Regions from separate parts of the Homo sapiens genome. Here all the other regions are linked to region 3. The links come from fine-mapping of genetic effects on gene expression. A gene starts in region 3. Each other region holds a variant in brackets. All regions are shown on one strand. Distances are between the middles of the regions.

Region 1 (10,749 bases), 79 kb before region 3:
TAAGACCCATAGTCTCATAACATAATACCTAAAAATATCCAGGTTTCAATAAAAAATCATTCCACACACCAAGAAACAGGAAAATGTTTCCGAATGGAAAAAAGACCATCAGTAGATGCAAACAATGAGGTGACAGATGTTGGAATTATCTGATAAGGATTTTACAGCAGCCATCATAAAAATTCTTCAACAAGCAAGTATAAATGCACTTGAAACAAATGAAAACGTAGAAAGTCTCAGCAAAGAGACAGAAATTCTCAGCAAATAGAAGATATAAAGAAAAACTGAATGGAAATTTTAGAAATAAAACATACAATAACTAAAATATAAAAATCAGGAATAAATGGGCTCAACAGCAGAACAGATTAGACAGAATAAAGAATCAGTGAGCTTCGAGACAGAAGAATAAAATTACCTAATCTGAACAACAGAGAGAAGCAGGCTGAAAAAAATATCATATACAGAGCTTCAGGAAACTGCAGGACTGAAAAAAAAAAAAAAAAAAAGCAACTTCCTAAATTATTAAATAATTTTGAGTTGTAAATTGTATTTTCCAAAAGTCTTTGCAGCTGGCCCTTAGGCCGTTGAAGAATGGTCACACGAAGGACATATAAAAATCTTTGGTGTACTGATATTATACCTCAATTGGACCTATGTAGCCTAAAAGTTAATGCAGTCTTTGAAGGTTCACAGGTAGGGATAAAAAGCTACAGTCAAGGTAGTAAAGAAATCAAGTTCATTGTGTCATTTATCATGTCCACCAAGAAGATGTGAGGTGATTGGTGGCATGTTCTCTTCAATCTGTGGAACTTCAAAATGAACCACTCAACAGAGAATGGCTCTGCTGCTGGTAGGGTAAGTCTTGTGCACAGAAAGAAACATTCTAAGCATCTCAATAAAAAATGGCACCTTGCATGCACTGACTGGTGCTCTGAAGTTTTGCCAAGATAAGGTACAATTTTAACCGTCTATAGGGCCACATTTGAAGCCATTTTAAACCTATGTTAATTACCAGTGAGCAGGATAGGAATATTTTTCTTTTTTAAATACAAATACAAAGTAAGATTTTATAATAGGTAAGTATATTCAAAGATCGTCCCTCAAAGTTGAACTCATTTGAACCATTAAATCTAAAGAAATCCAATCAAAAAATTAAAAAGAAAACACATAAGATTAATAACTTGGATTTTGAGGGGATATACAGCAAAGATTGAAACAAGGTCTCAGAAGTATTTTGGCTTCTGTTAATTTTTTTTTTGATTACAATGAAAAGAAATGAAACTCCAAGTTAAAAGATATCCAGAACCACTTTAAAATTCTCATAAAGATAGTCACATAACATGGGCTACCCCAACCCTACTATAAGTCTACTGTTTGCCCAATGCCATCAAGGTTTATTACCAATAGTAAGAAAGATTCAAATATCTGGTATCCAGACAATGTTCACAGCTACTTCTCCTTTAAGAGAAGCAGAAAGGCAGTTTTAGGTGTGGTCTGTCTTTATTCCCCCGAACTTGATCAATGTATACAATGCTTACACATTCAAATATGTGCAAGATTCAACAGGAACACTCTCCACTGCTGTGCTGAGTACGCAAGTTTCCCTGAGATGTCCGCATCACCGAGGGCTCCGTTCTAACTCTGGTCGACAGTTTCTGAACAATGCAATAGTGTAGCTAGAGGACTATATAAAATATAAGGTTCTCTCAAAAAGATTCATGGTGTTTGGGGATAAAAAACATATCAGTCTTCTTGGCTAAAGGTTGGCAAATGTGTTTTCAACTTTAAAATGTCTGAAACTGGCTCTTTTCTTTGTTGATAGAAGCTGAGTCCAGTGATGTGCTCAACATCTGTGATCCGTGCTCTGTGTAACATTAACAATTCTTCAACCCATGAGGAGTCATGCTTCCCATGCTAGGAGAATAGGAAATATAAAAGAAAAGTTACCAAGAGAACACTCAGTTCACTTCTATAAGTGCTCCATCTCCCCAGTTTAATCATTTACGAGATTTCAGCTCTGAAGTGGAACGTGCCACATGATTTGTTAGGCATCATCTCTCCTCTTGAGTAGCTTTCCTTCTAATACATACCATGCATGTTTGTTTAATTAGATGCTTCAAGTTTGGGGAAAAGAAACTATACCTGGAACAGATGGTCCTGCATTACATAGGTTTAAGAAACTTCAATGGCGTGGGGTTAAAAAAAGGGGGAAAACAGAAATTACATGGCATGGGAAAGAATATCTGAATAATGTAAAGAATCACTCAGAATGCCTATTATTAAAAAGTCAAAAAACAACAGACGCTAGCTAGTAAGGTTGTGGAGAAAAAGGAATGCTTTTACACTGTTGGTGGGAGTGTAAATTAGTGCAACCACTGTGGAAGACAGTGTGGCAATTCCTCAAAGACCTAGAGGCAGAAATACCACTGGACCCAGCAATCCCATTACTGGGTACATACCCACAGGAATATAAATCATTCTATTATACAGATACACGCACGCATATGTTCAGTGCAGCACTATTCACAATAGGAGAGACATGGAATCAACTTAAGTGCCCAACAATGATAGACTGGATCAAGAAAATGTGGTACATACACACCATGGAATACTATGGTGTATATGGTCAATGATAGACTAAATTAAGAAAATGTGGTACATGTATACCATGGAATACTATGCAGCCATAAAAGATCATGTCCTGTGCAGGGACATGGATGGAGCTGGAGGCCATTATCCTTAGCAAACTAATGCAGAAACAGAAAATCGAAACCTCATGTTCTCAATTATAAGAGGGAGCTGAAGGATGAGAACACATAAACACGTGTGGGGGAAGAAAATACACTGGGGCCTGTTGGAGGGCAGGGGGTGGGAGGAGGGAGAGCATCAGAAAGAATAGCTAATGGATGCTGGGCTTAATACCTGGGTGACGGGATGATCTGTGCAGCAAACCACCATGGCACACATTTACCTATGCAACAAACCTGCACATCCTGCACATGTACCCCTGAACTTAAAAGTTGAAAATTTTTTTAAAAGAGGCTGGTTCTGTGACAATCGTATCAGGTAAACTAAGGAAAGTTATTTAACATATAAGTCTTGATTCCTTTATCTGTATCCTCCTCATCGGGTTATTTTGAGGATCAAACGTAATGATGTGTGCAAATGTACTACACAAATACTAGTTTTTATGAGAATGTGTTACCTACAAAGATGCATGAAGAAGCCCACGTGGGCCAAAGCCACATGCTAAGAATGGTGGAGCAGAAAGAGGGAAAAGTTCTGGGTCCCTAATGGTGCAGTTGACCCAAAGCGCCATCCCAGGACTGTGTGCAGCTGGACTTGCTGTTCCATGAGGAATCCCTGACTTGCTTAAGCCACTGCAAAGGGGTTTCTGTTATTTGCTGCAGAACCCTACTCTAATTGATACATTCAATGACAATATAATCTCTCAAACGAAATAATGAAGCAGGGAATAGCTGCATGTTTCCAACAATGCCCACAAAACTGACAACTTTCAGTGGAGTCAGATAATCATCAGGCAACCAACTAAAATCTTGCTATTCTGTATTTAATTCTAAAGAATAAAGGGAAAAATAATGAGAAATGTGTTCTATAGGAACAAGTAATTCTGAAAGTTTATCATAGAAACAATTAAGGAGAGACATATCTTCATGAATTTTAACGATATATAGAAAGACTACTACCATCAGGGATGGCAAACGGATCATTGTATTCTACTCTTGGGCCCAGAGAAGAGCTCACTATTTTGTTCACTGCTGTGTCCTCAGTACCTAGAGCACCTGATTATAAATATCAAAGGAATGAATGGTGAATCAAAGTAGTAGTGAATGAATGAGTGGATACAGCACTCTTTCCTGCTGAGCTCATACTGGGTCTCAAGATCCTAACTCCAGGTACCTACCACCCATTCATTGGGACTGGTATGAAAGCTACATCTTTTTGCAGATTCAGGTTTAGACTTACTTGGTGTCACTTCAATGAAAAAAAAAAAAAAAGGAAATGTAGGAAGTACTCTGAAAGAAATATATTTTGGCTCACCATAAGAGAAAACTTAAAAATTGCTAAAATGGGCCGGGCACAGTGGCTCATGACTGTAACCCCCGCACTTTGGGAGGCTAAGGCCAGCAGATCACCTGAGGTCAGGAGGTAGAGAACAGCCTGGCCAACACGGCGAAACCCCATCTCCACTAAAAATACAAAAATTAGCTGGGCATGGGTGGCAGGTGCCTGTAATCCCAGCTATTCGGGAGGCTGAGGCAGGAGAATCGCTTGAGCCCGGGAAGCGGAGGTTGCAGGGAGCCGAGATCACGCCACTGCCTTCCAGCCTGGGTGACAGAGCAAGACTCCAAAAAAAAAAAAAAAAAAAGGCCAGGCACGGTGGCTCACGCCTGTAATCCCAGCATTTTGGAAGGACAAGGCGGGTGGATCACAAGGTCAGGAGATTGAGACCATCCTGGCTAACACGGTGAAACCCCATCTCTACTAAAAAAAAAAAAAAAAAAAAATTAGCCGGGTGTGGTGGCGGGCGCCTGTAGTCCCAGCTACTCGGGAGGCTGAGGCAGGAGAATGGCGTGAGCCCAGAAGGCGGAGCTTGCAGTGAGCCGAGATCATGCCACTGCACTCCAGCCTGGAAGCCAAAGTGAGACTCTGTCTCAAAAAAAAAAAAAAAAATTAGCTGGGTGTGGTGGCGGGCGCCTGTAGTCCCAGCTACTCGGGAGGCTGAGGCAGGAGAATGGTGTGAACCCAGAAGGCGGAGCTTGCGGTGAGCCGAGATCATGCCACTGCACTCCAGCCTGGGAGCCAAAGTGAGACTCTGTCTCAAAAAAAAAAAAAAAATTGCTAAAATGTTATGCAGTCTTGATGTCCCAATCTACAATGTAGATTTTTAAAATTCTGAGCAAATAAGATAATATAAAACAATTATTCCCAAACACACTGGGATGACAATACGATAAGAAAGGAAAAGATTTTTTATAATTAAGTGATACACAGAAAATTTGAAATGTTGTCTAACAACTTTAATTTATAACAGTGCTGACACTTTGAAATTATACATCCAGTTTTAAAAAAAGAGAAAATCCATACCTCAGATAAACCTAGACTTTAGTGGTTAAGCCATACAAAGTTTGATTCTGATCTGATTTTTAGTATCTTTACCAGACAAAGGGGCCAGGCAGGGTGGCTCACACCTGCAATCTCAGCACTTTGGGAGGCCAAGACAGGAGGATCATAAGAGGCCAGGAGTTCAAGACCAGCCTGGGCAACATAGAAAGACCCTATCTCTAAAAAAAAAAAAAAAAAAAAGAAAAAAGTAAAAGCAGACAAGGGTAGTCTTCCCCAAAGATATGTCATCTTAAAAGATCAAATTTAAAAGCATCCTATAATTTCGAAGTCCATGTGTACTCA[G/AGAG]TTGTGCTTTCTCTCACTGTAATGTCAGATGGGTGACATAAACAAATATGCATATGTCTAGATTTTCAACATGCAAAGTAAATATACAAAAGCTACTTACCACACAGCTCTCGCTGTTATCAGTCCTGTGAGGCAAAATGAAAGCTAAGGTGTCTAGGTTTTCACAGTGCAAAGGCGTCTGAGATGTATCTTTACAGCTTGTTAGCACAATAAAGAAGTGAGTTGGAATCAAAATTTCTTGGTTACGGATGACTCTTCTTTTTCTGTAAAACATGCCAATATTCATTTTAAGAAAGAAATAACTATCTTCCTTTTGATGAATATTTCAGTAGAGCATGCTTTTAATACATATAAAAATCAAATTCAAACAAATAATTAAATATAAGAAGCTAGTAATCACAATACCTCAACATACTCTGCCAGATTGAGAGCAATAATTAGAAGACAGGCAGATAAACACACTCCAAATAATTTTTATTTTCTGTAGAAGTTTATTGACTTTTAGAATTCTTTTAGTTCTACCTAAAGACATTGAAATTGAAACACTAAAGAAAAGAAAATGTCATTTTTGAACACCTATGACCAAGAGTGTAAACCATTATTGATAGTCTTAACTTCTAGGCGATTATAGACAAATAGTGGGCAGAGAAAGAACTGGTTAGGAATTTTCTATTCCAGCCCCTTCAGAGAGGACATGTTGTCATGAATTGTTTGTTCTAACTGGATTTTCTTCCTTAATAACTTAATTTTTTAAACTGAAGTATATTATCAAAGATGTCCCAAACATCTTTACCTCATAGTCATTCTCCTATTTTAAGGCTGTGTTTGTTTTTTCAACATCTTTCAAAATTTAAGGCAGTGGAATCATTGTTTTCAAATATGACCTTATGTAGAAACATAATCTATAAAACAGATTTAAACAGAGGGCTCTGGGTGAAGCCGTGGGTAGGAAGCATATGCAGTTCTCTTCTGTATCCTCTCCAGTGCTACAGCTTCTAAGGCAGCTTTATGCCTCAAGGGAAAGTAAAAAACTGTAACTTTGCAAATTGATGTGCTTTCTGATGTATTTTGTAAGTCACATATATCTAAGTCAGCCTGGGAGAGTAGGAAAGTTCTGAGAGGGGCTGAATCTCAGTGGAATCTCAGTCTTTTTCCTACGGACTTAACAGCAAAATTGCTTCCCAAACTGCTGTAATTATTGTTTCAATAAAGATCAACCAGTTTCCAAGATGTTCTTTCCCTCTCTTTTTTAAAAAAGCACCACTGATGGTTTCCTTCAGACGGTTGCTTTTTATCATGCCCCTCCAGCCACAGTTGGGTAAAAGCCATAACATTCACCCAAGGCCACCAGACTCCAAGCACTGCAGCTTTATAACCCTATTCATTCCTAGACTCAGGATATCTGTAGCCACACCATAGAGTTCTTCATCTTCTGACTCACAATATATTAAGATCATATCTTAACAATCAGCCACACAGAGATCTTAAATGAGTTCAGCATTTAAACTGAGTGCAAAAATTATTCAACTGAACTGAATGGGTGAGAAACACTACTTTTTTACCTAAAAATATTTTACTGAACATTGAGCAAAACATCAAAATTAATCAGATATTTCAAGAGGCTTCCTGTGTAGTCAGAAGTGTCATACACATAAACATACGACACTGGATAAAAAAGGTTCTGTTGACTCAACTGGATGGTAATCCCATTTCTACTGGATGGTAATTCCTATTTTTAAGAGTAATGAAATATGTTCTTACTGCCTCAGATTCTCTAAGGAATCACAACGTCCATCATAATCAAAGTCAAACACAGGACCACTGACGACATTGACACCATTTCTTTCTTCAGCATACTTTCGCAGTAGGGTGTCATGAAAGTAGCGCCATATAACTGAAACAAGATAGAAGCCAGTGTAGTTTCAAAAGAACAAGGGACCATGTTGACGTGTGAAATAAATTAACACCATGATTCAAAATTAGCATTTATAGTAAATAAAGATAAAGTCAAGTTTGGCTTCAGTCTTCGTTTTGTTTTGTTTTTTGTTTAGAGACAGAGTCGTGCTATATCACCCAGGCTGGAGTGCAGTGGCACAATCATAGCTCACTGCAGCCTCAAACTCCTGGGGTCAAGAGATGCTCCTGCCTCAGTCTCCAGAATAGCTAGGACTACAGGTGCACATCACCATGCCCAGCTAATTAAAATTTTTTGTAGAGACTAGACACCAGATCTCACTGTTTCCCAGGCTGATCTTGAACTCCTGGCCTCAAGCAGTCCTTCTGAGTTGGACTCCCCAAAGGGCTGGGACTGCAAGCATGAGCCACCACACCCAGCCTTGGCTCTAATCTTAGTGTGAGGCCAAAAATTCATTGTTCAGCTTTGGCCTTTGAAAGGACTCACAGACAAACGTTGAACCCAACTCTCTTTGAGACATCCCTGAACAAGTACATCATGTTGAAATTGTGATCATATGTCATCATTAAGCATAGCAACATCGCAAACACAAACAAGGCATATTATTCCGATTTCCTATTAATATCTGAATATTAACTTTGAAATATTCACAAGTATTCTAGATATAAATTAGACTAAAAACTCCTTATATGCTTATATTTTGATATTCTATACATCAATTTAAGTAACTAAATTTTTATTCCTGTAAAAGTCAAATGCTGCAATAGTTAATGATGATGTAAAATCTATTCATTTGAAAACATAGACAATTATCAAGAACTTCCAAAAAGTTAAATAAGGAAGCCGAATGAAAGTTAATATAAGTGTTAGCAGACTGTATTAGCTGGATAACTTTAGGAAGCGCATCACATACTTTCTCACCAAAACTGTTTGCAAACAATTATACAATTAGAATACATGATAATTCTAATAATTTGTAGAATTTTTGTGTACTAGTATTCTCAAAGTTAAACCTTTAAGAATGTATTTGGTATTAATTCATTTAATTTAGACCATAAGTCCTATTACATATGAATTATGCCTATATGTGCACAAATTCATTAAAATTATCAAATATAGAGTTAACATTATTTACCTTGAAAACTCTGGTACATTGGCACTATATTTGTAGTAAGCAAAGCTTCAGAATATATTCCACTTGAATTTTTATTTAGTTCTACAAAGAGAAAAGAGGACAACTTTTTCATTCTTCACAAATAACATAGGAAATTATAGTTTCTCATGGTTAGGGGAGCATTTTTAAAAATTAGCTGAGTACCATCTTAAACCTGTAAAACTTTCCCAAGTACAGGGTCAAGGGAAAATGTAATGTGTTTGGTCAAGTCCTTTACAAAAATAAAATATTTAAGAAGTCTTTTCAAGATGAGCATGTCAACGAAACATAAACTTTAATAACAAGAGCCCCAAATTAAACATATTCAAACGTTATTGCCCTCATTTCAACTAAAAGGAATTGTGTTGACAATCTTCTTTCCTTACACTTTTTCACAGTGAAAAGAAAAAAGAGAACATCTGGCTCCAGAACAACACCTGCTACCCAGAAAAAACATCACAGGATGTCTGTCTCGAAACACCATACAAGGCTTCTCTGTATGAATTTGAGGCTTGGACCTGGTCTATTTTTATAATGCAATAGCCAAGTTCTGACTTCAGACACATACTCTGGGAACTGAACTGGATGCTGACGGTAGTTGAGCACCTGGAGCTTTCTGATTTTTGCCTTTTAAGGCTGGCCCCAAAATGGCTTCTCATCAACATACAAATTTGCCATTTCAAAAAATAGAATACTTAGCTTCAAAAAAGCCATTCCCTAGAGATTCTGGATCAGTGAAAAAGCAAGCATATGTAAGCCTCTACCTTTACCTACTTCTCTGACAAACGCATTTTCTTTTTAAACAACAAAGTTATTTATCCTAACAAAGTTATCTTCCTAAGAACCTTGATATATTCTTCCAACTTGATATATATATTCCACCTTCACAATATTCTCAAATTGTTTAAAAGAAATGCAGAAAGGAACCATGAAGTGTTCTGCTTACCATATCTGCACTACATCAACTACCCTCCCAACAAAAAGAAAATTTTATAAAATTCAAGTTTTAGATGATTAAAATTTTTCCCTTGGTAGTTCTAGACCAAATCCACAATTTTTCACCAATAAATAAACAAAGCTATATATATATAGCTATATATATATAAAATAGTAATATATATACTTTATATATATTATATATATAATATATATATAAAATAGGTAATATTTATATATATATAATAGGTAATATATATATTACCCTATAATGTATGGTAGGATTTATAAACAAGAAAGAAAACAAAAAGGAGAAAAGGGAAGGTCAGGAGAGGAAAAAACTTACGTGGTGGGGAGAGGAACCCGTAACTCACTTTGGTGTTATTTTTATAAAATGAACATTTATGGACAGGACTAAGAGGAATTCTAAAGTCCTGGTACAGACAGTTGGAGAAGTCTTCCGTAGAGAAACTGTCCTGAAGAACGAAAATGAGAAGAACTCTCAGATATCAGGCACAGAGAAGAAAATTGCTTTATTAATATTTAAAGGTGAACTACATCATAAAATTATGAAGCTCTAGCTGTCAGCTCATGTCCTTCCCTATTTTCCTACTAGTATATTCATCTTTTTTTCTAACTAAAGTGTAAAAATGCTTTACAATATTAAAGATATTAATTGTCATATTTATGCAAATATTTTCAGATTCTGCTATGCTAATATGAAATAATGTTTAGAATGATTTTATCTACACAATTTTAAATATTTATTTATTTATTTATTTATTTATTATTATTATTTTTTTAAGATGGAGTCTCACTCTGTCACCCAGACTAGAGGGCAGCGGCGCAATCTCGGCTCACCGCAACTCTGCCCCCCAGGTTCAAGCGATTCTCCTGCCTCAGCTTCCCGAGTAGCTGGGACTACAGGCATCTGCCACCACGCCTGGCTAATTTTTGTGTTTTTGGTAGAGATGGGGTTTCACCATGTTGGCAAGGCTGGTCTTGAGCTCCTGACCTCAGGTGATCCATCCGCTGCAGCCCCCTCAAAGTGCTGGGATTACAGGTGTGACCCACCACGCCTGGCTAATTTTTTGTATTTTTAGTAGAGACAGGGTTTCACCATGTTAGCCAGGATGGTCTCGAACTCCTGACCTCGTGATCTGCCCTCCTCAGCCCCCCAAAGTGTTGGGATTACAGGCGTGAGCCACCGCGCTGGTCAATTTTAAGCTTTTATATAGTAAAATGTTGATTTTTAGAGATCTGAGTCTATCTTCCATAGTCAACTACACTGCCAAAAGTTGCTGGAGCAAAGGAG
Region 2 (10,749 bases), 63 kb after region 3:
CAATGTACTCTCAGAAGTACAGTGAGAAAAATAAAACTATATATAAATGTACATACTGAGAATGTTAATTGATGTAGCTGGGTACGGGTTATAAAGAGTTCTTTATACTATTCTTTTTTTAATAGAAACAGGGTCTCACTATGTTGCCCAGGCTGGTCTTGAACTCCTGATCTCAAGTAATTTGCCCACTTCGGCCTCCCAAATGTGCTAGGATTACAGGTGTGAGCCACAGTGCCTGGCCTATACTATTCTTGCAAACTTTGTGTACATATAAAATCCTTTCTAAATAATATTTTAAAGTGTAACTAACTTTATTGTTTACATTTTCAGATTTTTAAAAATAAAACAAGTTCATTGTAAATATAGGCTACATACTGAAAGTTATTAAGTAGATACACCAAATCCTCTATAATTTCATGATCCATTAAATCACTAGTATTCATTCATTCAAACTGGCTTTACATATACATATTTCTTTTTTAATGGAATAATGAATACGCAAAAGGAAGGTATAATATTGCACAATCTCTGTGTAAAAAATGAAATTTTATTAGCCGGGTGTGGTTGCGGGGACCTGTAATCCCAGCTACTCGGGAGGCTGAGTCAGGAGAATCGCTTGAATACGGGAGGTGGAGGTTGCAGTGAGCTGAGATCACGCCACTGCACTCCAGCCTGGTGACAGAATGAAACTCCATCTCAAAAAAAATACATAGTTTTAATTTTTCTCTTTTTATTTTTATGTCAACAACTTAGCCACTTTCAGACCAACTCAGAAGTAATGAGGAAATCCAGGGTTATTAAACTCATTTCAGGGTTGTAAACACCCACCATTTGTCTTCCTATTGTGAGTTCTAAATTCCAGGTGATCTTATTTAGTTTCCAGGCCATGGTGGGGCAGGAGAACACTGATTGGAAAAATTGTCTCTATATGAAGAGTATTAACATTGTTGCTATGTATCCGGAAATAATTTCCTATTTGTGTCTTAACTTGCAGCCTCTCTGTATTGCACATTTTGCACTGCATAAATTTTTTACCTAAATTCTACATGTGAAGAAACTATGTTAAAAAAAATCCAGTGGGAATAAACTAACATCTTAATTGGTTGTAATTAATAACCATAATTCAGTTGAAATTCTAATAGAAATAGAAAGCAATTGAATTTGTTTTCCTTGAAGTTCAGGTCACAAGATTTTTCATTAGCTACAAAGCCTGTGTCCCTGGATGAACTGATCTTTATATCAGAGAAATATCTGGAAAATTGCCAGTCTAGCAACCCCAAAATCTGACCAATAGCATTGACCCTGAAATAATTGCTGGGATCTCTTTGGTTCATAACTCTATTTTGAAAATGAAAGAAATACATATAGGAGTTAAAAAAAAAAACTTCAGGCAATACAAAGAGCAAAAAATAAAAATGTTATCTTTTTTACTATTAATTTCTGCTTCCCCCAGCCCAGATTTTATTATATGAAACAGGGGCTGACAAACTACAGCCCAGGGACCCAATCTAGCCCTCCACTTGTTTTTGTAAATAAAGTTTTATTGGAACATAGGTGATATGGTTTGGCTCTGTGTCCCCACCTGAATCTCATCTCGAATTGTAATCCCCACATGCCGAGGGAGGGAAGTGTTTGGATCATGCGGGCAGTTTTTCCCATGCTGTTCTCGTAATAGTGAGTGAGTTCTCATGAGATCTGATTGTTTTATAAGTGTCTGGCATTTTATCTGCTCACACTCACTCTGTCCTGTCTCTGCTTAGACTCACTCCGTCCTGTCGCCTTGTGAAGAAAGTGCTTGCTTCCCCTTCTCCTTCTGCCATGATTGTAAGTTTCCTGAGGCTTCCCCAGCCATGCGAAACTGTGAATCAATTAAACCTCTTTTCTTTATAAACTACCCAGTCTCAGGTATTTCTTTATAGCCATGTGAAAGCAGACTAATAGAACAACCACTCTTACTCCTTTTTTGTATTATCTATGGCTGCTTTCTTGATGCCACAGCAGAGTAAGTAGTTTTAAGAGAGACTGTATGGCCTAAAAAATTTACCATCTAGTCCCTTATGGAAAAGTTTACCGACCCCTGAAAAATGACAGTAGACTACACACATTGTTCTACCACTTGCTTTCTCACTTAATAATAGTGATACATTCAAGATATATATAGATCTACTTCTGTCTTTATAGTGATGGAACAGTATTTGTTTAAACAGATTCCATAATTTGTTTAACCAGTCTTTTAGGTTGTTTTCTGGTTTTTGCTATCATAAAAGATGTCATTTTCATGCATTTGTGCCAAGCACATCTGTTGGGACAGTTTTTACAGGTGAAATTAACAGCGCAAAAGTTCTGTGCATTTTTAATTTTAATCAGCATTGCCAGTCAAATACAAAAAGTTTTGTGACAAAACTGATTTAGAGTTGATTCAGTTCCCAAGTGAGACATACTTCTTTTGTTCTCCCTTTTGTTTAGATAATTCTGGGCAGAAAAATATATTCAAAGATTCTGAGTAAGATAAAACAAGTAATAAGGAAGGTATAATCTGTCATGAGATTAGAGTTTAAGAAACCAACAAAAAAGGGAAGGTGTAATATAGCATCATCTCTGTGTGAAAAATATAACTTTAAAATAATACATATTCATAGAATTGAAAAAAGAGAAAAAGGAATAATAAAAATTATGGCTTTTAGGGGACTTAAGGAAAAATAGAAAACTTTATTTTACAATTCTCCAGAAAAAAATCACTTATATTTTGCCAAAATTACTTTATACAGTAAATTATATATTAAGTAGACATTATTAAGTTAAATAGTGGTTTCAAATGTTGGTAAATATGTCTTTAGTTGCAAAATTTCAGAGACAGGCTGCACTTTATCCTGATAGAAGTCAAGCCCAGTGAGAAGTTCTACATCACGGACCCGGGCAATGTGAGCTGTAAATCTTTCTTCAACCCAAAGAGCTTCTGGTTTACCTTCCTGAAAAAGAAAAGCACAACACTTTTTTTTTCACAAGGCAGTATTTTTCATGAACAGAAATATTTTTATTGCTTAGAAGTTGTCTTTTTGCCGATGATTTTTACCTCCTTAAATCTTAATTTGATACAGCTAAATTTAGTTTTTAAAAATAAAAAGAAAACACAAGTACAAAGTATACTATAACTAACATAGAACACCGTTGTCAAAATTTATCTATTTTTATGTTTACTTCAGATGTAATTTTTTTAATGAAATTAAATATTGCAGATGAAGTTAAGTCCCCAGGGCTCCTCTGTTCAGAACTAAACATCTTTATATCAGGGTGAATCCAGTCTGTTTTTTCAAACTTTTACTGTACATCACTATACAATATGTAGTACTGATGAGTTTTTAAACTTATGTTAATATTATAAGTGGTATTCTACAATTTTTTTCATTCGGTATTAACGTTTGTAATCTATAGTGATATATCTAGGTCTTGTTAAGTGACTTGTTCTTAGCTGTGGTTTGTGATATTTCCTCATTTAAATGCAAAACAATTAAATTTTGCGTTACATATTGATAAAATTTTTGTTACTATAAATAATGCTATAATAAATAACTTGGTATATGCCTCCTGTGTTCAAGAGCATGAGTTTCTAGGATATATTAATAAAATTGTTGGGCCATAGAGTACATTCAAATTTTTTTTTTTTTGACATTGTCACTCTGTCACCCAGGCTGGAGTGCAATGGTGTGATCTTGGCTCACTGCACTCCAGCCTCAGCCTCCCAAGTAGCTGGGATTACAGGCACCCGCCGCCACACCCAGCTAATTTTTTAATATTTTTAGTAGAGATGGGGTTTCACCATGTTGGCCAGGGTGGTCTTAAACTCCTGATCTCGGGTGATCCACCCACCTTGGCCTCCCAAAGTGCTGGGATTATAGGCATGAGCCACCGCACCCGGCCGAGTACATTCAATTTTAACTTTATCAGATATTAAACCTAGCACTCCTCAAAGTCTTCGTACCAATTTACAGTTCTATAGGCAGTGAAAGATAATTCCCATTTCCCCACATCTTTGCCAAACCGTGGGTGTAAAATAGTGTTTTATGTCTGTTTATATTTTATTATGCTGACTATTGTTTATTTATGCATCTTTTCAGTTATTTCTTGACCTTTTTATTTTGGATTTTTTTTACAATATGAAAGTTAGTTCAATAATTTAGAAACATGGGTTTCTATGACATTCTTTATTCTTTATTATAAAGAATAATTTTCTGGTATTCATATGATATTGCTAAAGTTCAGTTAACTTTTCACATAATAAGAAAGTTTCAAAGTTTATTTAATCAGATTACTGTGTTTTCATGATTCTCATTTGACTTCGATGCAGTGGTTTACTTGTTTAAGTATGCAGGCTTAATACAGATAGCCACTATCTGAGCCAGAGGAAGAGTAAGAGGAAATACTTTTTGTTCCTAACCATTAAAGCACTTGTGTCAGATTCACAATGCGAGCTAATATTAAAAAAAAAAAAATGCGCCATGTTAGAGTTATTTCTTTCAATGGGAATCTAATTAGAAGTTTTTCTCTTCTGCCTTTACTATTGCACATTTCAGCAGCACCTAATATCTTTGATCACTTTTTTTTCCATAACATTTTCTCCCATTTGGTTTATACGACTCTACTCTCTCCTGACTTACTTGGCATCCATCCAACTAAATGTTTACCCAGCACCTGACAGTCTTCCCTTTTTTAAATTTGCAGGGAAATGACCACAAAGCATAACACAAAACTATACTTATGCAGAGACGATACTTCAGCTATTTAACCTGAGTAAGTCGCTGGCACCAACTAATCTGAACAGAAGCCAGCTGTAGACAACTGCTCTCGCTGCACTAGTCCATGCCAACAGAATAGGCTATACAGTTTTATGAGCTATATTTAAATATACTTTGATATTTATATGTGTGTGTGTGTGTGTGTGTGTGTGTGTGTGTATAAATGACCTGTTACAGAATTAAGAGTATTGTATATCCCCAAAATACAACTCATTTTTTGAGGCAATATTGATTTCAGCATTTTTCTGCCCTATCCACGTTCTTATTCTCTCTCCTTAGCCACTTACAGTCCAGTGATTGCTGTTATCATGCTAATGCAACTACTTTGTCAATGATGACCTCACTGAATGGGTTGTCCTCAGGCTTTTCAATTAGTTAGCTACCCCAGGCTTCTGAAGTTCCTCCTTTGTTATCCATAACTCTACTGTTTACTTGTTTGATAATACCTTCTGTTTCCTCAGATGACTATACTTCCTGGAAGCATATTTTCCTCAATTTGATTTGGGATCTTTTCTTTCCACTTTCTCCCCTTTGGCAATTGTATTTCACACCAATGATTTAATCCCAAATCTAGATCTGCAGTTCTGATTTCTCCTCCAAGTTCCATACCTACATTTTCCATATCTGCTGAGTAACTTACAATGAAAGTCACTTGGACTAATGGCTACATTCTCATTTATCTGACAGAATTTTACAGTACAAAGATGACAGGAGGAGGGAAAAGGAAAAAGGAGGGAAGAAAAGATGAAAGGAACAAGGAAAGGACAAAATAAATAAGGAAATATGATCTAATTCCTTACACCAAGTGTGGGATAAAATTGTGAATCTATCATTCCTATAGCTTGATCTCAGTTCCCTGGAACCTCTTAATAGTAGGAGTACTTCTGTACATTGTGTAATTCAAATATTTAAAGTACAGAGTTTCCATACAATGCAATGTTTAAAGCCAGCCATCTATTTTATCAGGTGCATCAAAGCACAATTACCTATCCAAATGCTATTGGAAATATTGGCTGGTTTAGACTTACTAAGAAACAGTTTGTGAATGTACTACACTTTCTGGATGATTTGCATATAGGAGATTCAATTTCACTCTCTATTGACTTTATTTTATTTTATTTTATTTTATTTTATTTTGAGACAGAGTCTTGTTCTGTTGCCCAGGCTGGAGTGCAGTGGCCTGATCTCCACTCACTGCAACTTCTACTTCCCAGTTTCAAGAAATTCTCCTGCCTCAGCCTCC[T/C]GAGTAGCTGGGATGACAGGCATGCACCATCACACCTGGCTAATTTTTGTATTTTTAGTATAGATGGGGTCTCTAGTAAAAGGCTGGTCTCGACCTCCTGACCTCAGGTGATGTGCCTGCCTCGGCCTCCCAAAGTGCTGTGATTACAGGTGAGCCACTATGCCTGGCCTCTGTCGACTTTAGAATGTAACTTCATCCTAAGATATGATTCCTTTATAATAGCCACCATTTTTTATATTGGGAAGTCTTAGGGTTTTATATAGATTATTTTGTTTAATCTTTACAAACTTCATAAAAGGAGGTGAATATTTTATACTTATTAGATATAATAGATGAGGAAACTAACATATTTGCCCAAAGAAACGAAGTCATTCACTGAACCCAGGAGGTCCAACTCCAAAATCCATGCATTTAAGTTCTGTTTTATACTATTTCTCATATATCCTCCTAAATATTCAACTAGTCTGTCAAACTGAAGACCACCAAGAGCAAATCCATCCTTCTCAAAACAAAAGATAATCTATCGTATACATTTCCTGGTCAGTCATGCCCTGGATTTTTAGTCATCTTTGCCTCTCTCTCATCTTGCCTTTCCCTTCCCCATATCTAATTGACAGCTACTCTTATTAACTTTGCAATCTCTTTTATAATCATAGCTTGGCTTAAGTTTTCTTTATACTCATTGCATTTTGTCTAATAATTATCTATACAGATGTCACATTCTTATTACTATACTGCAAATTCCTCAAAATCTTGGATATGTCCAATTTATTACTGATGATGTCCTATTCAATAGAGATGATGCTCTGTTAACTTTGGAGAGATCACTTCTACTTTGAATAATCAAGGAAAGCTTCATATTATTTGCACTTTACCTTGACGCCCAGATGGAATTTTTAGCAGATGGAAAAGAATGAAATTCTAGAGGAGAGAAGAACATAGGCAACAGTGATGAGGTAAGCAAACTCAAGATGTGTTCAAGTAATTTCAAGGACTCCAATTGACCTGGAACTTATAGCCTGTAAGGTCAACTGAGGGTAAATTGTGAAGAGACTTAAGTACAGGCTGGAAGTTGTTTTTGTTTGTTTCTTTGTATTTTTGTTGTTGTTGTTGTTGTTGTTCAGGATAATCAGAAGTTTTGGGGTGAGAGGCTATGACAAAATATAAACTAAATTTTAAGATGAGTAAGTTGGTAGTAGTGCACACTGACAAATGAGAAGAGGAGAGGAGACCACAAATCTACTTAAGATTCATTTTCAAGAGTCCTAATAGAAGGTCAAAAGGGCCCAGACCAGGGATAGCAAATATTTTTTTCTTTGTGTACTCATTGTAATCACTCCATCATATCTACCTAGAACCTCTGTAATAACGAACTGTTTAATCCAGATTTCATGGTAAAGAGTACCACATCGTATCAGTCATTGATGTCTGTCATTGGAAAAGGAAGTAAAGAATAATGGCTTACCCTTGTCTCAACCAAACAAAATGCTGACAGAAAAAGTAGGAAGGGATTCAATTCAACAACATCTCCTGATAGTTTCCTGTTCAGAAACTCTTCTTCCTCATTTTAAGAATAGTGAGTGGCTCACTATTCAGCCTCTAAACTTGGCCACCTTCTTTAGACAATTTAAACACTCAAGTAAAATCGTATCTACATGACCCAACTGAAATGTCACCCTCCCTGTCAAGAAGTAATTCTCCTTTGAAATACTACTACAGCAGTTTATCTGTCCCTCTCTTACATCACTTATCTCTTTCTTCTAATATTTTACTGGATTTCTAATTGTGAGCACCTCCTATAGTGCACAGCATGGTGAAGGCACTCATGCATTGAACACCTGAAAGAATATAGATGAATCCCAATCTGGCCTAGATCCCAAGCTTCAATTCTCAGGCTCTAATTGCCTATGGGACTTTCCACATCAATGCCCATTTCCACAAACTTAAAATGCCTATCCTTAGCTTATCCTATCTACCTGCCAAAAAGTTCTCATTCCCAACCTTCCTCTTTCTGCCTTTTTCCTAATTACTAACATTCAAATCTGATTCATCTTTGAGTTTCCTTTTGGGGTGGGGGCTCTTGTATCCAATCAGTTACTAAATCCTCTTCATTCTTCATACCCACCCTCCATGGAAGACTCTTTGTAGTCTTCTCAATATACTCAAATTCTATCCATCTTTCAGGGCACAGCCCTACTTACACCTTATTTTATGAAATCTTTATTGATCATTCCAGCCAAATGTGATTTTAATTTCAAATATTAAATCCTTTTAACATTAATTGTCAATTGATCCCAACTTTGCAACCTCTTTTACTTTTTAGTTTTTAGAATAATTCTTGTATTATTGACTGACTAAATTGTGTGCCTATATCTCATATATAAACTGAAGTTGTATATGAACTCTTTAAAAGCAGGGACAATGTGTTCCTCCTTTGTGCATTCTAAAGAGTTTCTATCATGATACTATGTGCTTAATAGGTACTCAATATGTTTGTTGAATGACTTCAGTAAAACCTAAGTTCCAGGATACATATTTTTTCTATAAGGAATTTATATGCAAGTCGAATTAACTACTTACATATAATCTGCCTTGATCCAAAAAGGATTTTGAGGTAGCCTAATAATGATGTTTAAAAAAAGAATGTTACTTGCACTGTGTGTGTGTGTTTGTGTGTGTGTGTGTATAATCAATTTCACACCTCATGGTTCAAGTTGATGGAATTTTTACATGTATATACTCATTCAGAAACATTAATTTAGTGCTAACATTGGGAAGAACTTTAAGATTTGTGGCCAGAATAAAAATAAGTTCTGGTGGTTCTATTACACAGTAGAGTGGCTGCAGTTAATAACAATGTATTGTATATTTCAAGATAGCTAGAAGAGAGGACTTTGAGTGCTATTACCACAAAGAAATAAATGTTTAAAGTGGTAGATATGTTAATTATCCTGATTTGATCATTATACAAAGTATGCACGCATTCAAACATCTCACTATCCTCATAAATACATACAATTGTCATGTTATAAATAAAAAAAGAAAAAAGAGATTAACAAGATTTCACCTCTTTCATTATTAGTGAATGTGAATAAAACGTATATAAATAAAATACATGGGGTATATATATGTTCAACTATGCAGATATATGTTTAAATTGATATTAATTACATAGAGATCAATAGCCTAAGGAAAAGCCTAAAAATGAAGTCATTTGTGTTATAACTTTTCCCATGAAACACCTAAAAAAAATGTTTTAGTCAGAGCCACTTTTATGAGAACCCAAATGAGCTCTGACTCATTTTCTCGGGTCCTGGACCCTCCCAAAGCATACTCACAGGACAGCTCTCCACGTTGGTAGGTCGGTGAGGGATGATAAAGGGTAGGACATCCAGCCACCCAGGGCAGTTTTCCGGTGTGTGGCTCTTGTTTTTACAACTGGTCAGCACCACAAAGTAGTGTGTTGGGATGGGAACATCAGTGTTGGCTAAATGTCTTACAAACATAATTGAAAACATGTTTTGATGTTATTATACTTTTGTTTCTAAAGGTGATAAGTGTGTTTACATAGTTTTTTTCATATACATGTAAAATAATAATTCTTATAATTCTAAGTTTGACAGCATTTTACTATATGCTAGGTACTTTTTAAATAACTTACATACAAAGTTTTAAGTGCAAAATCTGACTCCACCAAAGGAATACAAGCTGGTATAAATATGTAAATATATATATGAAAAACACTATGTAAAGACACACACACATATATATATATATTTACTTCTAATGGTACTTTGGATTTTTTTTTTTAATAGAGATGGGTTCTCACTTTGTTGCCCAAGCTGGTCTTAAACTCCTGGGCTCAAATGATCCTCCCACCTCGGCCTCTCAACGTGTTGGCATGACAGGCGTGAGCCACTGCACCAGGCCAATAAATGTCTTTATATAGTTTTAAAGAAATGCCAAAGTAAAAATATAGTAAAAGAAAGTAATAAATAAAAAGCACAAGGTCTTACATATTTTTTGCTCCCATCAGCCAGAATAGAGATTACAGTAGAAGTCCAAGCTTGGTCATTCTAACATGAAAAAATGTTAGAATACAAAAAAAAAAAAAAAAAAAAAAAAGCAGAGCATGATATTCTGCCTCCTGCATTTCCTCGTTTTGTTGACTTCATACTTCACAGTAGTGTTTACTAATACAGCAGAAGCTGAGAATGAAGGAGCCCAGATTCCACCTCCAGCCGTGCACTTCCACAAAATGTTTGGACTTTCATTCACCCTCTAATTCTGTCATTTACCGAGTTTCGAGTTTCCTCAGCTTTCCAAGGAAGTGATTCTGTGCTATCAACTTCACAGTGTAGACATGGGGATAAATCCATACAACTGATGTGACAGTACTTCGGTTTCAGATAACGAACATGAAAGTGCTTTCAAAAGTTTTAAGTGCAAAGTCTGACTCCACCAAAGGAATACAAGCTGGTATAAATAGAAATGTATTACTGTGATTTAGAACATGGACTCAGAGCCAGGCTGTCTGGGTTCATATTCTGGCTTTACCACTTATTAGTTGCAGAATTTAGATAAGTTGTTTAACCCCAGTTTCCTTAACTCTAACTGGGGGCTAATGGAACCTAACTAGGGTATCTTTGCAGTTTAACTGATGTATATGTGAGTTCTTTATAAAGTACCTAGCATATAGAAAATGCTGTCAAA
Region 3 (10,749 bases):
ATCCCAGCTACTTGGGAGGCTGAGACAGAAGAATCGCTTGAACCCAGGAGCGGGAGGTTGCAGTGGGCCGAGATTGTGCTATTGCACTCTAGCCTGGGCAACAGAGCAAGACTGTCTCAAAAAAAAAATCTCTGAATATGCTGAATAAATAACCTGTAAGCCCTTGCTTTAAGATATCCCACCTTTTCATATGGAATCAATGTATACCTTTCATGTACTGATTTATGTCTTTGCCAGTAACTCCTGCCTCCCTGAAATATATAAAAACACACAGTAATCCAACTGCCTCAGGTGCACATTCTCAGGACTCCTTGAGAAAGTGTTTCCCCGAGCCACAGTCACTCATCTTGGCTCAGGATAAAGCTCTTTAAAATATTTTACAGAGTTTGGTTTTTCCATTAACAAGGTGATACTCTTCACTATTGTCAAGGCCTTATAAGTTTCTCACTGAAAATTCTAAATTAATTAAGGATTCTTTTAACAGCAAGCTCTTAGGAGACAAAAACATCAAAGATCATGGTCTCCAACCTGGAAGATTTTGTTTAATAGAAAATACCATCAAATAAAGGACTCCTAGCCACGTTAGAAGGGCCAATATCAGGCTACCCTGCCTAAGTGGACATCTTCCTCAGTGGAGATCTTCAACACTTTGTTCTTTAGACCAGGACAAGAAGTGGATTAAAATATTCATTTGGTTACCTTCAGGAATAGGAACACTTTTCATATTTGTATTTCAAGTTGTTTTGTTGATAATTGTCCTTATTTGTGTCATCCTTTTGATTCTTAAATTGATTATGCTTTGTATTTCTAGATGTCTAAAGTCTACCACAAAATTCTATAACAAAAAACTCATCATAATAGCTAGATGCTTAGAAATGACCCAACATACCTCAACTCCAGTGTAAGTGAATGACCTGAAATCCCGCTGCTCTGTCCCCTTATTTTTCAATCCAATCCCTGAATTGTTGCCTACCAATTCAGCCTTGGAACCTCACTAAGTTTTTAAGTGATAGTACTTCTGCCCATCTCATTCCCTCTGACATGGGACAAGACTATCCGGAAATGAGCCTTCCCAGCAATGTGGGACAAACTTACATCCAAAACGTTGATCATCAGTATTTTAAGAAGAGAAAGATTTTTATTAAAAGGAGGAAATGAGAAAGAAAAATTGCTCAGAGCAGTCTGAGATATGCGAACTATGCAAAATTTATCAGGCCCAGAGGGACATGAGCATGGGACTTCAGTCACATCACTGCACCCATTCCCAGGGGCAATTCTTTAAAAGCATTTTGTTCCTGACAGCTGCCTCACCCACTATCTTCATGTTCCTGGAATGTGTGATACAAAGAACAATGTATAGCCAACCAATAGCTCGTTATTGTAACATGAATGCTTGATAAACAACTTAGGAACTGCCTCTTCCTTTTTCCTTTAAAAACCCATTTGTAACTGCTGCTAATAGGAGCATCTACTCAGGGCAACTTGAATCTATGCTCCTGGGTTGCAGTCCTCAAACTTGAGCCAAACGGACTCTCTACATATATATAGATATAGATATAGATATAGATATAGATATAGATATAGATATAGATATAGATATATAGATATAGATATAGATATATGTTTTTTTAAAGAACTCTTTCACTGAAACATGAAAGTAGTCTTCAGTGACCACCACCCATACGCAAGCCCTTTACACATACACAGATACACAGATATATGTATTCATAAGTATAGCAGAAGGTCACAAACAACACAAAAAAAATGCTTTTGAGGAGCTAACTGGAGAAATGTATTGCAATGTAGTTGAGAATTACATGACTGTAAAATCACACCAAGAAACAAGAAGGATATTTAAATACATCTCCAAGTCAACACATCTCGGTGGAAGTCTACACTTCAGTTCAAAACTTCATTTACAACCAAGGAAAGGCATCTAATATTTAACATACCTACTGACACATGTAGAGAATAATACTTGTTTTTCCCTCTTGCTGTTTTCCTCAGTTTGGCTCAGTACCTAGGCACAAGCATTCCAGGGCCCAGGGCCAAAAGCCTCTAAAGCACAGCTTGGTGGCCCTCTCCTAAGATCAACCACCACAATGGGGAGAAGCCAGGGTAGGACAGAATCCTCACTCCTTCATCCACTCTCACACATCTACATCATTTTAGTTTATCTGAGAAAACTGCAGAGTAATGTAAAAATTACATTGCCACTGCAACATGATTGCCTCTGAAAGGCAAGGCAACGCAACTCTTCTATTTATCCTGCTAAATTAAAACAGTGTAGCTGAGGATCATAGTGCTGGGCCTCTCCTAATCCCAACCCCAGGTTGCAATTAGTTCAATCTGTTTCTGCAGCTTTATGAAAAGTGTGCTGAGGTTTAATCTGAAAACAAAAGGAATTCTATAATTGCAGCTCCTTTCTAGAAGACATATCCCAGAGCTCTTTGACGACAATTGTCAGGATGCTTTTGGGGCCTTTTCCATTTGGAAGCCCATTATTTGGGGAAGTTTTTGGGGGGGGGGCGGGGTTGGGGGAAAAAGGTATTGAAGTAGGGAAGGGAAAGAAGAATACGAGTTTGCACTTTCAGTTCAGTAGCTAAATAGCAATTTCAACAATAAAGGGTCTCACCGTGTCACCCAAGCTGAAGTGCAGTGGCACAATCACAGTTCACTGCAGCCTTAACTTTCCCTGGCTCAGCTGAACCTCCCATGTCAGCCTCCCAAGTAGCTGGGACATAGACGCATGCTACCATACCCAGCTAATTTTTGTATCTTTTGTAGAGATGGGTTTCATCATGTTGCCCAGGCTGGTCTCAAACTCCTGGGCTCAAGCAATGGAACCGCCTCAACTTCCCAAAGTGCTGAGATAATAGGTATGAGTCACCGCACCAGGTCTATTTGGTAACATTTGTATGTTAATGTCTCACAGTGTTCCATCAAAAGATATGAAGTAAGAATTCTTTCCAATTCAATAGATGCAAAAGACCCCAATTAATGGATAAAAAAGGTCCATAATAGTCCTACTTGTGGAAGTAAGTCCTAGGACACTTCCATGTCAAATGCCCAGAGTAGCATCATCACACAGAATGCTGTTTGACCAGTTGACTGCAGGTCTCAAAGACTGGACAGCTTATTCCAAAACTAGACCTTTGCTGATATCTGTTGTGGATGTATAAGTAAATGAGCAAGAAAAATTTAAAACCTGAATTTTGCAATTGGAAAACCTGTAAAGGTTTATAGGCATGTAGAAATGGTTTTACACAAGAGTTACACACTGATTCCATATACAATTATCGACTACCTCATCGTGTGTGAAACACCTCAAGGTATTAATACTAAACAATTTAAGTGATCAGGTTGTAAAAGCTAAGGTCTTCCATTAACAAAATTTTTAAAAGGTGACTCAAGAGACTAAGTTCTCATCAATATTGTGTTATTATAGACTCAAAACAGTGTTACAAGATGCAAAATTTTATCTTGAGATGCAAACATCATGTGGCTTGGGGTACTTATTCTGTGAAACTAAGGCTTCTTTTTAAGTACTAAGCATACGGCACCATCTCTTAAGTCTAGGAAGATTGATTCCTCAAAGTATTATAGCATCTCCATGATGTCCCAAATATAGTGAAAATGGAAATGCATACAAAATGAAAGGAGACTTGAAAAATTAGAAATTTTTCTACAAAGCATTATTCAATCATATGTAAGGGGATATATTTTAGGGTACACTATACATAGAAATCTGTGATTTCCATATAATACAATAAAAATGATTCTATTTCCTTGCTGTTTTCAATTTACTTCCCTACCTACATTCTTCAGCTTGATTTTCACAATAATCCCATGCAATGCACAAGGGAGTTGATGTTGTCCCATTTTCACACATTAGAAATTGAGGTTTAGGGACAGTTACGCAAGGCCTCAGCAAATAATAACAGCCAGGAATCCAGGCCTTCTCTCAATCAGCACTTCCCACCATGAATTCAGAATAAAAACCAACCCCCACATTTCATGAAGTTGACTGTGGGTCCTGCAAATGTCATAGCAAAATAGCAGAGGAGTAATAGGTAGCTTTTGTTAGCAACACAAACCGTGTAGCCTCTGGTTAGAAGAGTGGGCAAAGAATCATAAAGGTTTCTTCAGTCACATAATGTGAACATCCATGGAATTTCTGAGCACCTGCAAGGAAATTCCAAAACGGAGCGAAAGGGAAAAAGTGTTCCGTAGAGTTCCTAATAAAACTTAAAGAGCTCCGCTAACTCTTCAACTGCAATCAGTTAACCCAAGTGAAGTCATGTATACTGCGCCCAGAGCCCCCTAAAAGAAGCAACACATTGATGCACCTTCTTAAGACCAACAACTTTCGCGTTTGACATTTTTCTCCTCTAAAAACCCGTACTCTCCTGGGGCAGGGGGTCGAGTATTTCTAAGGATGACCGTTTTGAACAGCCTGCTTTCACAGGCATCCATAATTCAAGTGAGAGTGAACCATCCTGCCCTGGCAAGGTACCTGGCAGGGGCGGCTGTGTAGGGCACTTGCAAAGGCTGCGGAGGAGAGCGCGCGGGCGAAGAAGCACTCCCGGACCATGCCTCTCTCCGGTGCCCGGTGCTGACTGCGCTGAGAGCGCAGGAGCTCGGCGCCGCCCTCCCCGTACTCCCAGCCCTCCCGGGCGCCGGGGCCTGGCCGCGGACCTACCAGCGAGAGTACTTTATAGGTGTTGGGGTCCTTGGCAGTGCGGGCGCGCGCCGCCTTCTCCAGCGGCTCCTCCCCCACGTCCATAGGGGCCAGCAAGGACGCGGCCGCCTGCGGGTCCCCGGGCGCCTCGGCAGCGTGGCTGCGGCCCCGATCGCGGCCGTTCCCCGCCGGGCCCTCCCGGGGAGCGCGCCCGCCCTCGCCGCCGCGGCTCCCGCCCCCCGCGCAGCCGTCGCGCTCCATCGTGGCCCCGGCCGCTCCGGCCCCGCTGCCCGGCCGCGCCTTTAATAGGCCCCGCGCCGCCCGCCCCGCCCCGCCCCTCCCCGCCGCGCCCGCCCCTCGCGGTCAGATCCTTGGCTCCCCGCCCTACACCCGGCTCTCGCAGTCAGGGCAAAGCGACTCAACGCCCCGGATTATTTGGCTTCCTGTCTGATTTCGGGCACTCTGTGTGTCGGTTATTTTGGGTCCCTTACGTGGGCGTGTCTTAAACTTCCCCCCAAGCCGTCCCCTCCCCGCGCCCCGGCCACCCTCCCGACACTTGCAGGAATCGCCCTGCGTGGCCTCGCGGCGCGGGCTGGGCTGGAATTGCAGCGTGTGGTCTGCAGAGGGCATGAGATCATGGGGCCCCAAAATAGAGCGGGGAGGAGGAGAAGGATGCAGCCGCCGATGCCGGTCCGGCTTCTCAAAGGCGGGAGAGAGTGGAGTCTTGGGGTCGACCTGTGAGTTTCTGGATGGAAATGCAAATGAACCATGGAGGAAGGCGACTTTCTGTTTCTCCCCCTCTGCGCCCCGTCCCCCACTACCTACGGTACTCTGAGAGAGAAATCGTCCACTTAAAATACGTGGGTTCACATGTACTGAACACACGTAAGGGATATTTCGATTCCCACGGTTTTATGTGGTTTCTGGAGTCTTCTCGCTATTGTTTGTATGTATATTTGCTTATTTTTCTAGACTTTCTGTATTGAAGGTTTCAGGAGTTGGCGTTGCCCTCTCCTGAGGTTGACACTGATACCTAGCTATATCAAAAGTGTTAATGCAATCTGAAATACTTTGATAAGCCTTATTTTTCAACTAGGACGCTAACAGTGAGCTGATTCTTGGTGGGTTTTGTTTTACCTTTGATTCTGGAACTTGTACATTTTCTGGCTCATCACTTAGCAAAATCACCAGTGTGTAGTGAAGTGAGACAGAGGGAAACCAGTGACTTCGAACTACTTTGCAATACCCAGGACTGACTTCAGGTACCAAGGAAAACAATTAATTTTCAATACATTTTGAATACATGAATATATACAAGTGTTTACAAATGAGAATGAATGTTTAACAAATATAAAATGCATGTTATCCCTTTAAAATAGTCAACTTGGGATGCTCTTCATTTATACTGACTCATCCATCCACCCATCCATTTATTCATCAAGTAATGAATCCTTCAACTCAATCTTTTGGCCTCCAACTATGCATACCATATAAAAAATGAATTAAAATGTATCTTTCCTTAAGTGTGGTGGAAGCGGGGGTGGGGGGGTAGGACCAACTCGTAAACAAAATAATTAAAACCTAAGTCATATATGCAGAATAGAGTCACACATAGGATATTGATACAGGAGATAGAAATTATTTAGGCAGATAGTATGAGCAAAAGAGCCCTCGGCAGAACTTACCTTCTAACAAAAAGCAGCCCAAGAAATCACTTCCTTTCTAACAAAGAGCAACCTGGAAGATTGGGCTGCAAACATAGGTAAGGAAACTGGAAGCTTGCACGGGAGATGCCGGCAGCGGCACAGACAGAAGGGGCTACTGGGGCCAGGCATGTCCACCATGGGGGTTCCACCTCCCCTCTTTTTTACCACATGCACAGTAAGAAGGAAATAAGCAACACGGAGTAGCTACCTGCCTATATAGTAGAAGATTGGGGCCGGGGCTGCCAGACACTTAAGCCCTATGCAGATGACACACCTGGTCCTAACCGGGTTTTCATGCCATATGCACGAAACCGGGTTTTCCCTCCTTATGTAGATCAGACACCGCCTCCCCACTAGCTCATCTATAAAAACCCCTGCATTTCACCACGTATTGCAACCCATTTTTTGGGACCCCTCTCTGTAGCAGAGCTATTCTCCTCCTTTTGCCTATTAAAAATTCTGCTCCAAACCTCACCCTTTGTGTGTGTCCACATATTTGATCTTTGTGGCCGTGAGACCAAGAACCTCGGATGTCACCATAGACAACAAAGCTACTTCAATATTATGAGAGCTTAGTAGAAAGGACAGTTGACATCTGGAAGAAGTAAAAGCCTTCCCTCAAAGCATTATTGAACTTTTTTAAAAAGTTACCTTTGAGTCAGCTCACAAACCACCCAAGAGAAACAGGTTTTCACTGTTTCATAATCACACATATTTTTCTGCCCCAAACTTGGCTCCAAATTTTCCTTTGACTCTTTCCAAAAATCAGATTCAAGGACAAAGATTTGCTCCACTGAGACTGGTCAAATGAGTGTCAAAACCTCTAAAAGCAACTCAACAGAGACATTATCCAAAGTGCCTTTAAACCTGACAAAACAAATGGAAGAAGTGTATTGTCTGCATCTCAAGGCAACGAACCACTTTAAAGACTTAACATTTGGAAAACACAGTGTGCAGTCTCCAGGGTCACAAACATCTTAAGGCCTAGGGAAAGCATTTTTCTGTGGCATTAATTTATTTTTAAGATTTTGTATGACATCCTGGTTTTTCTTTCTTTTTTTTGAAAGCACAATATGCCATGAACCATATTTGACTGAGGCAGCCCTATACACACTGCAAAAGGCAAACCATGTGCCATGTTAAAGGTTGCAGCATCTATTCAACAGGATTGTGTGCCCAGTGTGGGCAGATGGTCAGATTTTTCAAGAGAAGCAGGAAATTTAAATGTTTGTGTGAATTCTCCGGTTGCAAAATGTTGTCTACAAAATTCAGAGAAACAGTTTCTTCAAACAAACAAAATGTAGCACGTTTAAAAGCCAAACAAAATGTAGCACATCTGCAGGACAGACCTGGCACACACGTCACCAGGATGTGGCCTCTGCCTAATGCTCATGCCTCATCTGTGCCAGGTGGGACTTAATATGGGTAATTATAAAAACCCAATTGGAAGTCTAAAATCGGAAGAATAAAAATGAGCCAAGGCCGGGCACGGTGGCTCACGCCTGTAATCTCAGCATTTTGGGAGGCTGACGCGGGTGGTTCACTTGAGGTCAGGTGTCTGAGACCAACCTGGCCAACATGATGAAAACCAGTCTCCACTAAAAATACAAAAATTAGCAGGGCATGGTGGCACATGCCTGTAGTCCCAGCTACTCTGGAGGCTGAGGCAGGAGAATTGCTTGAACCTGGGAGGCGGAGGTTGCAGTGAGCCAAGATCATGCCACTGCACTCCAGCATGGGCAACAGAGAAAGACTCTGTCTCAAAAAAAAAAAAAAAAAAATGAGTCAGATATGCCATTTTCAGGTTTAGCTATAGACATTGCAAAGCCTATAGTGAAATATTGCCTCAGTCTTCTTTATTCTAAATGATCTGAGGGACAGCTTCACCATCACATTCCAAAGTACAATAAGGTCATGAGATATAAAACCACAACACAATTTTTGGGTTAATGCAAAGGTGAACAATGAATGTTTCATCCTTAATCCTAAATCACTCTGTTTTAGTGATTGCATACTCTAATCTGGAATAGCAGTAAAGATGATAATTTAAGATTTTGTGTAAGTTTTCTATTAAGTTTTATTGTAACATAAATATTTAGACATTTCTGTCTTGGTGCTTGAAGCTTTGGTTGTAGATAAGGCCAAAACACCAAACAAAAACAATTTATCAATGTTTAATTATTACTTTGAAATATTACTTTGAAACAACTTTTCTTAGTGATTAAAAAATGAAATATGCTGTAGGGTAATTATTTTAGCAGCTGTTTCAGAGCTTTTCCAGCTTTCTTCTAATTCGCCAGTAAAACAAGAAAGACATCTAGCCAAATCTAAACAGAAAAAAAACCCACAAGCCTCTTTAATCTTTGTGAGGCCTAGGGAAAACATTTTTCTGTGGCATTAATTTATTTTTAAGAATGTGTATGACATCCTGATTTTTCTTTCTTTTTTTGAAAGCACAAAAATATGTCCCCTGGAGCAAGAAGCTTGGATAACTATGTGACCTTGAACAGATTACCAGAAGCCTCTGAGCCTTAGTTTCCTTATTTGTAAAATGCTCTTTCAGATAATATCTCTAAATGCCAACAAAATGTTTGACATTTCAACTTTACACAAACATTTAAATCTATCATTTGCATTTGTAAATCAACCACTCACTACCCCTAAGGGAGAGAATAAAAAGATTTAATTTTCTCCTATATTATGCATGGTTTATATATAATCTCTGGGAAGGTTTGAGACCTGTTATTGGGCCTGCATCTACAAAGAGGGTAAGGAAAGGATTCTTGCTGCTCTGGGATGAAGGAGAGATGCCTACAGGGATCAGTTAGGTAACAAAACGAATAGAGAGAATTCAGAAGTGTAAGATCCAAAGGAGAGTAATAGAACCTGGGAAAATGGAAAACGCATGTACCATCCAAAGAGAGTGTGGGGTTCTAATTAGGGAAAAGGAGTCAGGATGGCGGGACCGAGGGAAAGCAAAAATATAAAGCAGATAAGCTGTAAGTCTGCCTTGCTTTGTGGTCCAGAACATGTAGCCCTCTTGCACAAATAACTCACAATCTTCCTGCACTCAGCTATCATCAGACCCTCGGGTGATTAAAAAAAAATGCAAGCTAATTCACTGCAACCTCGGTGTTATCAGTACTGCACAAAGCCCTCTTCAGCACACAGCACAAGCACCATTCTAGAACATCCCCAGCAAGCCTTCGTCTCCTTGCAGTCAGCTCCTCTCTTGCTGGCCTGCCCATTGTTCCCTTGCAACACATTTTCATACGTGCTCTAATAAATATGACTTTCTTTACCTACAAGTATCTTCATAAATTCTTTTTACCCCCACACCACTGGCCCCAGATTGTCGCTGATTACCTGCTACAGGAAGTTGGTTTCTAGTCCTTCACTTTTTGTTAACCACGGTATCTGCCACTCCTTCATTATCTCTTACACTTCTATTTCAAACAAAATGTAGGGTTGCCAGGTAACCTGAATTTTAAGTTTGATTAAAGTACAATTTACCTATTATCATATCTACCCATTATATGCATACAGTTCAGTGATTTTTAATAATTTATACAGTTGTGCAACTATTAATATGATCCAGTTTTGGAACAATTTCATCACTTCAAAAAGTTTGTTTCTGCACATGTATAATCAAAAACTCCCATTCCAGTCCCAACCAAAGACTTCTCTGCTTTCTGTCTGTAGCTTTGCCTTTTCTAGAAAATTCATTTAAATGGTATTATACTAAGTTGTCTTTTGTGTCTGTCTTCTTTCACTTAGCATAATGTTTTGAAGTTCATCCATGCTGATGCAAATATCAGTAGTCCCTTTTTATACATAGTAGTAATTTATTGTATGGATATATCATATTTTATCTTTTCACCAGTTGCTGGACATTCGTATTATTTCCAGCTTGAGCTATTATAAATAATGCTTCTATGAACATTCATGTACATGTCTTTGTGTGAATCTGCATTTTCATTTCCCTTGGGTAGATAACTGGGAGTTTCATTGTTAAGTCATATGCAAAGCGTATATTTAAATTTTTGAGAAACAGAGAAACTGTTTCCCAATGTGGCTGTACCATTGTACATTCCTGCCAGCAACATGTAAGGAGTCCATATGCCCCTCCTACACTTACTATTCACAGTATATCAGTGGGTAAGGAGTCCACATACTTTGCAATACTTCCTATTCTCAGTCTTTTATAATAGCCATTTGAATAGGTGTTTGGTGGTACCTCAAAGTGGCTTTTATTTGCATTTCCCTAATGACGAATTATGTTGAACACCTTTTCATGTGCTTATCTGTCATCTATATGTCTTCTTTGATGAAATGCCTACTCAAATCTCTTGCCCATTTTTA

Evidence for each region. PIP is the estimated chance that this variant, and not a neighbour inherited with it, causes the effect.
Region 1: its variant is the best candidate, but not a certain one, in a credible set for the expression of ENPP1 in pancreas (GTEx, PIP 0.83).
Region 2: its variant is the best candidate, but not a certain one, in a credible set for the expression of ENPP1 in fibroblasts (GTEx, PIP 0.68).

The regions. Positions count from the first base shown.
Region 1 is chr6:131,881,506-131,892,254 of GRCh38, reverse strand. It overlaps ENPP1 (ectonucleotide pyrophosphatase/phosphodiesterase 1), which reads right to left. Exons shown (of 25, transcript NM_006208.3): 21 at 9,781-9,910; 22 at 8,481-8,561; 23 at 7,192-7,324; 24 at 5,531-5,693; 25 at 1-1,914. The coding sequence ends at 1,744. Among named protein-coding and RNA genes, the nearest start is that of CCN2-AS1, 15 kb to the left of the region's middle. The variant G/AGAG (reference allele first, on the strand shown) is at 5,431.
Region 2 is chr6:131,739,006-131,749,754 of GRCh38, reverse strand. ENPP3 (ectonucleotide pyrophosphatase/phosphodiesterase 3) reads right to left here. Exons shown (of 25, transcript NM_005021.5): 24 at 9,375-9,531; 25 at 2,345-2,969. The coding sequence ends at 2,799. Among named protein-coding and RNA genes, the nearest start is that of CTAGE9, 33 kb to the right of the region's middle. The variant T/C (reference allele first, on the strand shown) is at 6,037.
Region 3 is chr6:131,802,229-131,812,977 of GRCh38, reverse strand. It overlaps ENPP1 (ectonucleotide pyrophosphatase/phosphodiesterase 1), which reads right to left and starts at 4,958. Exons shown (of 25, transcript NM_006208.3): 1 at 4,703-4,958. The coding sequence starts at 4,942.